Linked DNA regions of Homo sapiens. The protein of the gene in region 1 purifies or fractionates together with the protein of each later gene. This does not show direct contact. Each region holds a gene or a part of one and is shown on either strand. Other genes may lie near its edges.

Region 1 (3,326 bases):
ACCTCTCAGGGCAGCCCATTCTCTCCAAATTTCTGGACGGCAGCTCAGGCCCCTGGATGCAGCCATGACTGCCATAGCACCAGAATCGTTCTTCCAGGCTGGGCTGTGCCCCTGCCCCCATGCCAAGGGTGCTTTCGTATAAATTTTGGTGCTTCTGCTGCCTAGGCTGCAGTAAGGCACTGGTGAGGGGTGCACTTGGGGAAGGGTTGTCATCAGGCTGTGTCGGGAAGGTCTATGGGTACTGAACTGGGAAGATTCAAGACTGCCACTTCACAGACTTGCTGAAGGACCATCTGCTCAGAGGAGTCCCTGCCTTCCTCTGGCCACCACTTTTCCCTCTGCGAAGGGGAGAGGATGAGTTGAGTGACTCTGATGACCCCCGCCAACGTTCTGGATGATCCCCTTTTCCTCTGCCCTGCCCTGCCCTCCCCTTTCTCTCCCATGCATTTGGCACTTCCTGCTGCCCCCACCAGGGGTCCACAGAGACACAGGACAGGCTGTGGCTTTGACTTGCTTTATTGAGCCTGTGTGGGAGCAGGGAGCAAGCTTTGGCCAGAGCCAAGGGTGCAGAGGGGAGAGCTGGGCTGGCGCTGCTCATGGAGTCGTAGGAGACAGAAGGTGGCATTATAAGTCCAGCGGGCTGAGCTCCCTGTGAGGACAGGGCAGAACATGGCAGTGTAGGGGGTAGGCCTCGTGCCCTCAGGAGGCCTCAGGCTGGCCCTGGGCTCCTGTTCTCCCTCTTCCACCCCCCACTACACCTTTCCAAGCCCTGATTCAGTCCCACCACCCCCATTTCAGCTCCAGGGAGCTGGACAGACAGGGCAGGGAGTCAAACTCACCTGGGGACAGCAGCATGCGGGGACCCCCACTCCGAGAAGGCCAGCGTGTCCTCTTTGTGTCTTTTCCCATACCTGGGAGGGAAGAGGCAGCAGGGGCAAGCACTGTGCCCAGGTGCCAGCCCACCTGTTTCATATCTGCCTGTAGGCACCATCTTGCCCAGGGCACATTGGTCTAGGCCTGTTGAGCACAGATGCCCTGTTTTCCCAAGAGCAGGCCTGGAAGGGGCTGGGGCTGGGGCTGGGGATAGGGTGTGGCCAGGAATGTGGAGTGGGCCCAGGGTCCCAGGGGCTGGGATCTCTCTCCCCAACTGTGGCACACACCTAGGCCTGGTCAGCATGTTGATGTATCTACGGAGATCAGCTGCATACTGGGCCATCTGCTCTGGTGTGGCATTGTCCCCTGGGTACACTGGCTCCAGTGGGGCTCCCTGGGCACCCAGCAGTGGCTGTAGTAACAGAGCCACGCAGGTGGACAGGAGCAGCAGGGAGAGGCAGAGGCGTGCGGCAGCCATCTGAGGAGCAAGCAGAGGGGAGGTGGAGAGCCCGGGCTGCAGATTTTCCCGTGCCCAGGAAGCAGGGCCCAACTATCCAGCCCCTTAGCCCATCATCCATTTCTCCAAGCCTGGGGACAAGGGGGCAGAGCAAAGGGCCACTCCAAGCTGGCCACTCCACCTCCTAGACACTGCTCTGAAGGCACGGACAGCCTGTCCTGTGAGCAGCCCAGCAAGCCAGGGCCTCGCAAGTTAGAAAAGTATAGCAGAGAAAATGGGGATGTGAGTCCTGGAGACACGGGACTCATGACATCCAGGGCCTCATGGCTCCCAGGAGGCAGCAGCTAGTGGGAATAAGGGCATGCCAGGTCACCCACAGGGTGGGGGACACAGAATGAACTCGGGAAGCCAAGGACAGAAATCCATGGCCTTGTGGGTCTGGCCCTCCACCCTGCGATAGAGACACAGATATCGGTCCTGGAGAAGACGCTACTGTCCATGTCGTCCTGCACAGACCAGCAAAGGCACTCACACAGGGACCCCAGTCACTCACAAGGTCACAGTCACACATTCCAGTTCACAGCCATGCACACGAGTGTGCACACACACGTGCAGTCAGCAGACGGCTCTTCTAGCGTGACAGGTCTGTCCAGATGCAGAAAGCAAGACCCAAGCAGGACCTTAGGCCTCCCAAGGCCCCTGGCCCTGCAAAGCACCACCTCCTCTCCATCCCAGGCCCCAGCCTGGGGGAGGCCCCCAGAGCCCCAGGCAGGCTGAGCCCACTTACCCGGAGTCCAGAGTAAATGGGCACTAGACCAAGCGAGCACCTGCCTCAGGCCGGATGGGCCCCTGCCCTCGGCTGGGCCGCTTTATAGTCCTCAGCCCCCCAGAGTCCCCGCCTCCTGTCAGCCTCTCTCACTCCGAAGCCCTCACCCCTCCTCTCACTGTCTCCTCATACTGGCAACGCCAGTACTGAGGCCAGAGACGGGAGGGGGACAGGGCAGTTCTGTGGGTGCCAGACCAGCAGCATAACAGATAAAACTGGACCACAGTAAAAGTCTCCTGTGGGCCCCCATCACTGACACCCCTTCCCTTTGGGCACCAGAGCAGGCTTGGTTCAAGAAAGATGGGGTTCTGGGACTCGAGAGTGACTGAAAGGTTTTGGTCACAGGCCTTGGAACTAGCTCTCCTGCCTCCCAAAGATCAACCCAAATCATCCAACGGATTCTCTTGGGGCAGAAGATTGAGGCTGCAGCTGGAAGACTGAGGCTACAGCCAGAGCCTCCAGGCTGAAGAATGGAAACTCAGGCCATCCTCTGCAGCTTGCAACTAGAACAAGGTGGGAAGAGGGAAGGGGCCTCAGGTCCTCAGGCAAGGTGGAAAGGAGTGGGGTGCCAGGCTTGGAGAAACCCATTTGGTGGGTGCATAGGATGCAGAATGAGAACTCATGTGCCTGGGTTCAGGGGAAATGTTGAGGGGGGTGCCGGTTTCCAGTATCCATTTCCCTCCCCATCTCAGAGCCCCCATTCCAGGGAAGTGCTAAAAACCAGCTTCATTTGTAAAGCCTCACATTTTCCAAAGTGCTGCCAGCTCAGTCACCTCACTAAATCCCCACAACAACCCATTTTACAGATTCAGGATCTGAAATCTGCTCAGAGATGTCAAATCACTGGCCCCAAACCCCACAGCCAGTCAGACCCCAAAATTTAACTCCAAACCTGGACTGTTTTTTTTCCTAAGTGGGGCCGTCAAAGTATTGTTATAATTTCCCACTTTTTGGCTGAGAAACCTGAGGCTCACAGAGGTAAAGACGCTTGCTCAAGATCTCATAGCTACCGAGGTTCCGAATTCTGGCTTAGATTCTCAACCCCACTAATCCATCCCCACCAGAAGCCCCTGAGTCTCCCCTGCCCAGCGTCTCTTCCCAACCCCCAGTCTCCCTCCCCTGCTTAGGCCAAGGAGTGGTAACTGGCTGTGTCTGAATGACACGGTGACA
Region 2 (3,500 bases), on another chromosome or scaffold:
CAAAAATAGACACTGGGCAGAAATCTGCGCTACTTGTTTCTGGACAGCTTGTAAACGTGGAAGGTTTTGTTCTGGAACACTCTGGTGAAGTAGGCCACGTAGGGAGGCAGGTTTCTTTTGATCTCTTCACAGAAGCGAGGGTGGTCTGCAGGTTTCAAATCAGGATCATTCTCTCCTGGGCCATCCATCATCTAAAACCAAAACAAACCCAAATACAATTTGGGGGGAAAATTCTATTTACAAAAGACAGTAGGAGCAGGAATGGGTATTGGGTTTAAGAATGGTATGTGAGTGAAATTAAATTATATTATTTCAATGTCCATGGGCACCTGGAGATCATCAGGGCCATCCTTTTCCCCCTTCAGAAGTGCAGACCAAGGCTGAGAAGGAGAGTGCAGCGTCACACGATGATCCCATTAACGGGAAAGCCAGAACTAGAACTCAGGTCTGCTTGCTCTCAGGAACATACTATACTGTCTCTCTCATAGAAATGAAATACAGAGAACTACAGTGATCAGAGAAAGCTCTCTAACTCATCAGAAAAAGTCACATTTAGGCCAGGCGTGGTGGCTCATGCCTGAAATCCCAGCACTTTGGGAGGCTGAGGCAGGAGGATCGCTTGGATCAGGAGTCTGAGACTCATCTGGGCAACATAGCCAGACTCCATCTTTACAAAAAATAAACAAAATTAGCTGGGTATGGTGATGTATGCCTGTGGTCCCAGCTACTTGGGAGGCTGAAGTGGGAGGATCACTTGAGCCTGGAAGGTTGAGGCTGCAGTAAGCCAAGATCACGCCACTGCATTCCAGTCTGAGTGACAGAGTGAGACCCTGTCTCTAAAAATAAATAAATAAATAAATAAATAACTGAAAAAGTCACGCTCAAATCAAAATTTAAATGGATGTCTCTGGTCTGTACCACCTCTGAACTCAAGACAGTTATGAACTATGATTCTCCTCGGGCAAAAATCTGAATCTCAAATTCTGTACAGTCAAGATTTTTTTTTTTCAAATTTAGGCTAGGTTTGTCACTTTGTCCAACTTGTTTACAAATATCTATTGGCTTTCATACCATTAATTACAGCACACATCACACCTCTAAAGGGTGAAAATCTGTTTGCTCTACTGAGACCTGGCATAGCTCCAAGAACACTTTCCTCAGAAGGGAGAAGGGAGAAGCGGCTTGCTGCTTTTCTGCTCTGGAGTGCAACTTAGCCTCTGAAAGCCGGCCTGTGGAAACACACCAGTGGACACAGGACACTCAGTAGGAGAGGGCAGGAGGGGTAGGGGGAATCCACCACCTAGACCGGAGGGCAGGAGGGCCCCACCATCCCTGCCATGCAGCAGCTAGCCAATACGAAGCGTTGGAGCAGTGGGTTTAAAGGCTGAGGTTTTGTTTATAGCAGCAAAATCCTTCACAGATACATTTTATGCAGAGCCCCATCATACAAATGAGCTGAAGGCAGAGCTGCTCTGTTTGGTGTGACACTGGGGACCCAGGGCTCCCCTCTCACCTCTCCCTTGCCCAGCCCCGGTGGCAGTCACTAAAGTGCCAAGAGAGGGCTTCTGTAGGAAGCAAGAGAAAAAGCAAATACTTGATTCGTAGCGTAATTCAACTAGACATTAAGGATAAAAAGATTCACATTCTTAGGATTCAAATCAGAGTCCCGCCCCTCCAGGAGACCCCCACACAGGGAGAGGCAGCATGCTCACGTGGCCGTTGGCAATGTCCAGCAGGTCCCGGAGTCGGCAGCCCCGGCGGTGCCTCCGCTCGTAGCAGATGCTGTCTTCCAGGATTACGTAGTCAGTGCCGAAGGACCTTAGGAGGGCATGCACTTCCTCTGGTGCCCTCTTGGCATATATCTGATAAACCTTCAAAAAGACATAAAAATGCAATGTGGCAAATGCTACTTGACTGCCAGGGAGTTAACTATGTGATGTAACCTTCCACAGGGCTGAGTCTAAGACCTAACACCCAAGGTGCTCTCTCCAGCCCAGGCCACGCTGCACTCGCTCATTTGCAGGCCTGGAGTGTGTGCGTGGAAGTTCCCAGAACGCTGTGAGTGCTCGGCCTTGGGAAGAGAGTGAGCCAGGAAGAACACATCTGGATTCAGAATGTATTACTTCAAGTCAGGACTATATTCATCAGTAGGCACCAATTCTAAGACTGCTTTCCCAAGGTAAATGACAGGGCTGAGTAAATAAGACACAGTCTCTACCTTTAAAAAGGGGACCCCCAGACTAAAATGGCCCATTAAGGGTGATGGGACAGTCTGAGGGACACACGTCCCAATAAGGCAGAGCCCCAGCTTCTGAAACTGGTAGGTGGGGAGAAGGATCCCTGTAGGGTCTCTGCTCCTAGGCTGGGGCAGCATTGGCTGCTTTACCTGCTACTCCGCATCTCAGCTAATTGAGAGACCCCACTGCTCCTCTCCCTCTCGTCCATCCTAGGGGTGAGAGCCACTTGCAGCACACCGTGGGCAACGCCACAGGAGGCCCCCTTCACGTTCATACCAGTGCCACACACCCTCAGTGGATGGATGCAAACTGAGCGTCCCAGATTCTGGGGCTGGAATGGAAACAGGCTGTGTGAGGTGTTGAATGTGGGGGTTCATGAAGAGAGGCACTGCCTCCTTTGTTGCACCCTGATTTCGAGTGCTAGATTTCTGATTTGGGCTTGAGGGTCTAACTTGATGTGTCCACATGGATGGGTGAAATGGTAGGGAGGTAGGATGCTGTTACTGTGACAACTGTGTTGTCCTACAGTCCAGCACAAGGTCTCAGGCTGAAGGCATTCCAAGGGTTCCAGGGTCCTGATGAAGAGCCGTAGGGCCTTGAGGATGTCAGTGTGTGGGGCCTAACCCTAGTACTGAGACAGGAAAGGAGATGCCCAGGACGTTCTGTGCACTCGACCTGTCTTTTCTGCAGTCTCCAGTCCAAGCAGTAGAGGCCACCCCTGATGAACCTGGTGCCTGGAAAGCCAGGGAGCCCCTTTCCTGCATCCTCCTAGTTAATTTGGAACTATCTGGAACACTTCAGCCCATCAAAAAATTCCTATTTTAGCAGGAGTCTGAATTCAAATGATTCTTATACAAGACAGGAGATTAGTAAAAATCATCTGCTTTTAGGCTAGTCAAATCTCACCTCAAAACAAGACTTTTTCAACAACTTTTCAACCGCCAACATGAAAAAAGTGACATTAGGAAACATTTATGAGTTTGAAACCTGACTGGTGAGGATGAAGGAACACAGGCACCTTCCTGCACTGCTGACTTGAATGTAAACAGATACAACCTGTAGAGAGAGGACTTGATAACATCTCTCGATCTACACTACAGATGTCAACAACCCTGACCCAGCACTTCCCCATCCAAGAATCTGCTGTACAGACAGACACCGTGCCTGGAAAGAGTGATGTGCAGACAAGTTTATCTGCAGCATTGTTCATATAATCACAAAAGACAGGGAAACAGCAGAAATGGCTAAATAAAATATGCCACA

The links.
Region 2: the proteins of PPY (region 1) and DPY19L3 purify together in Homo sapiens (affinity purification with mass spectrometry; one large-scale study listed by BioGRID and IntAct). This does not show direct contact.

Annotation. Positions count from the first base shown.
Region 1 is NC_000017.11:43,940,304-43,943,629, forward strand, and holds PPY (pancreatic polypeptide prohormone isoform 1 preproprotein), read right to left. Parts: upstream 2,174-3,326; 5' UTR 2,118-2,173; intron 1,972-2,117; exon of another isoform or gene 1,902-1,971; coding exon of another isoform or gene 1,884-1,901; intron 1,352-1,883; coding exon 1,161-1,351; intron 912-1,160; coding exon 840-911; intron 650-839; coding exon 625-649; 3' UTR 501-624; downstream 1-500.
Region 2 is NC_000019.10:32,478,770-32,482,269, reverse strand, and holds part of DPY19L3 (protein C-mannosyl-transferase DPY19L3), read right to left. Parts: intron 1,872-3,500; coding exon 1,713-1,871; intron 192-1,712; coding exon 30-191; 3' UTR 1-29. UniProt on the Homo sapiens protein: C-mannosyltransferase that mediates C-mannosylation of tryptophan residues on target proteins.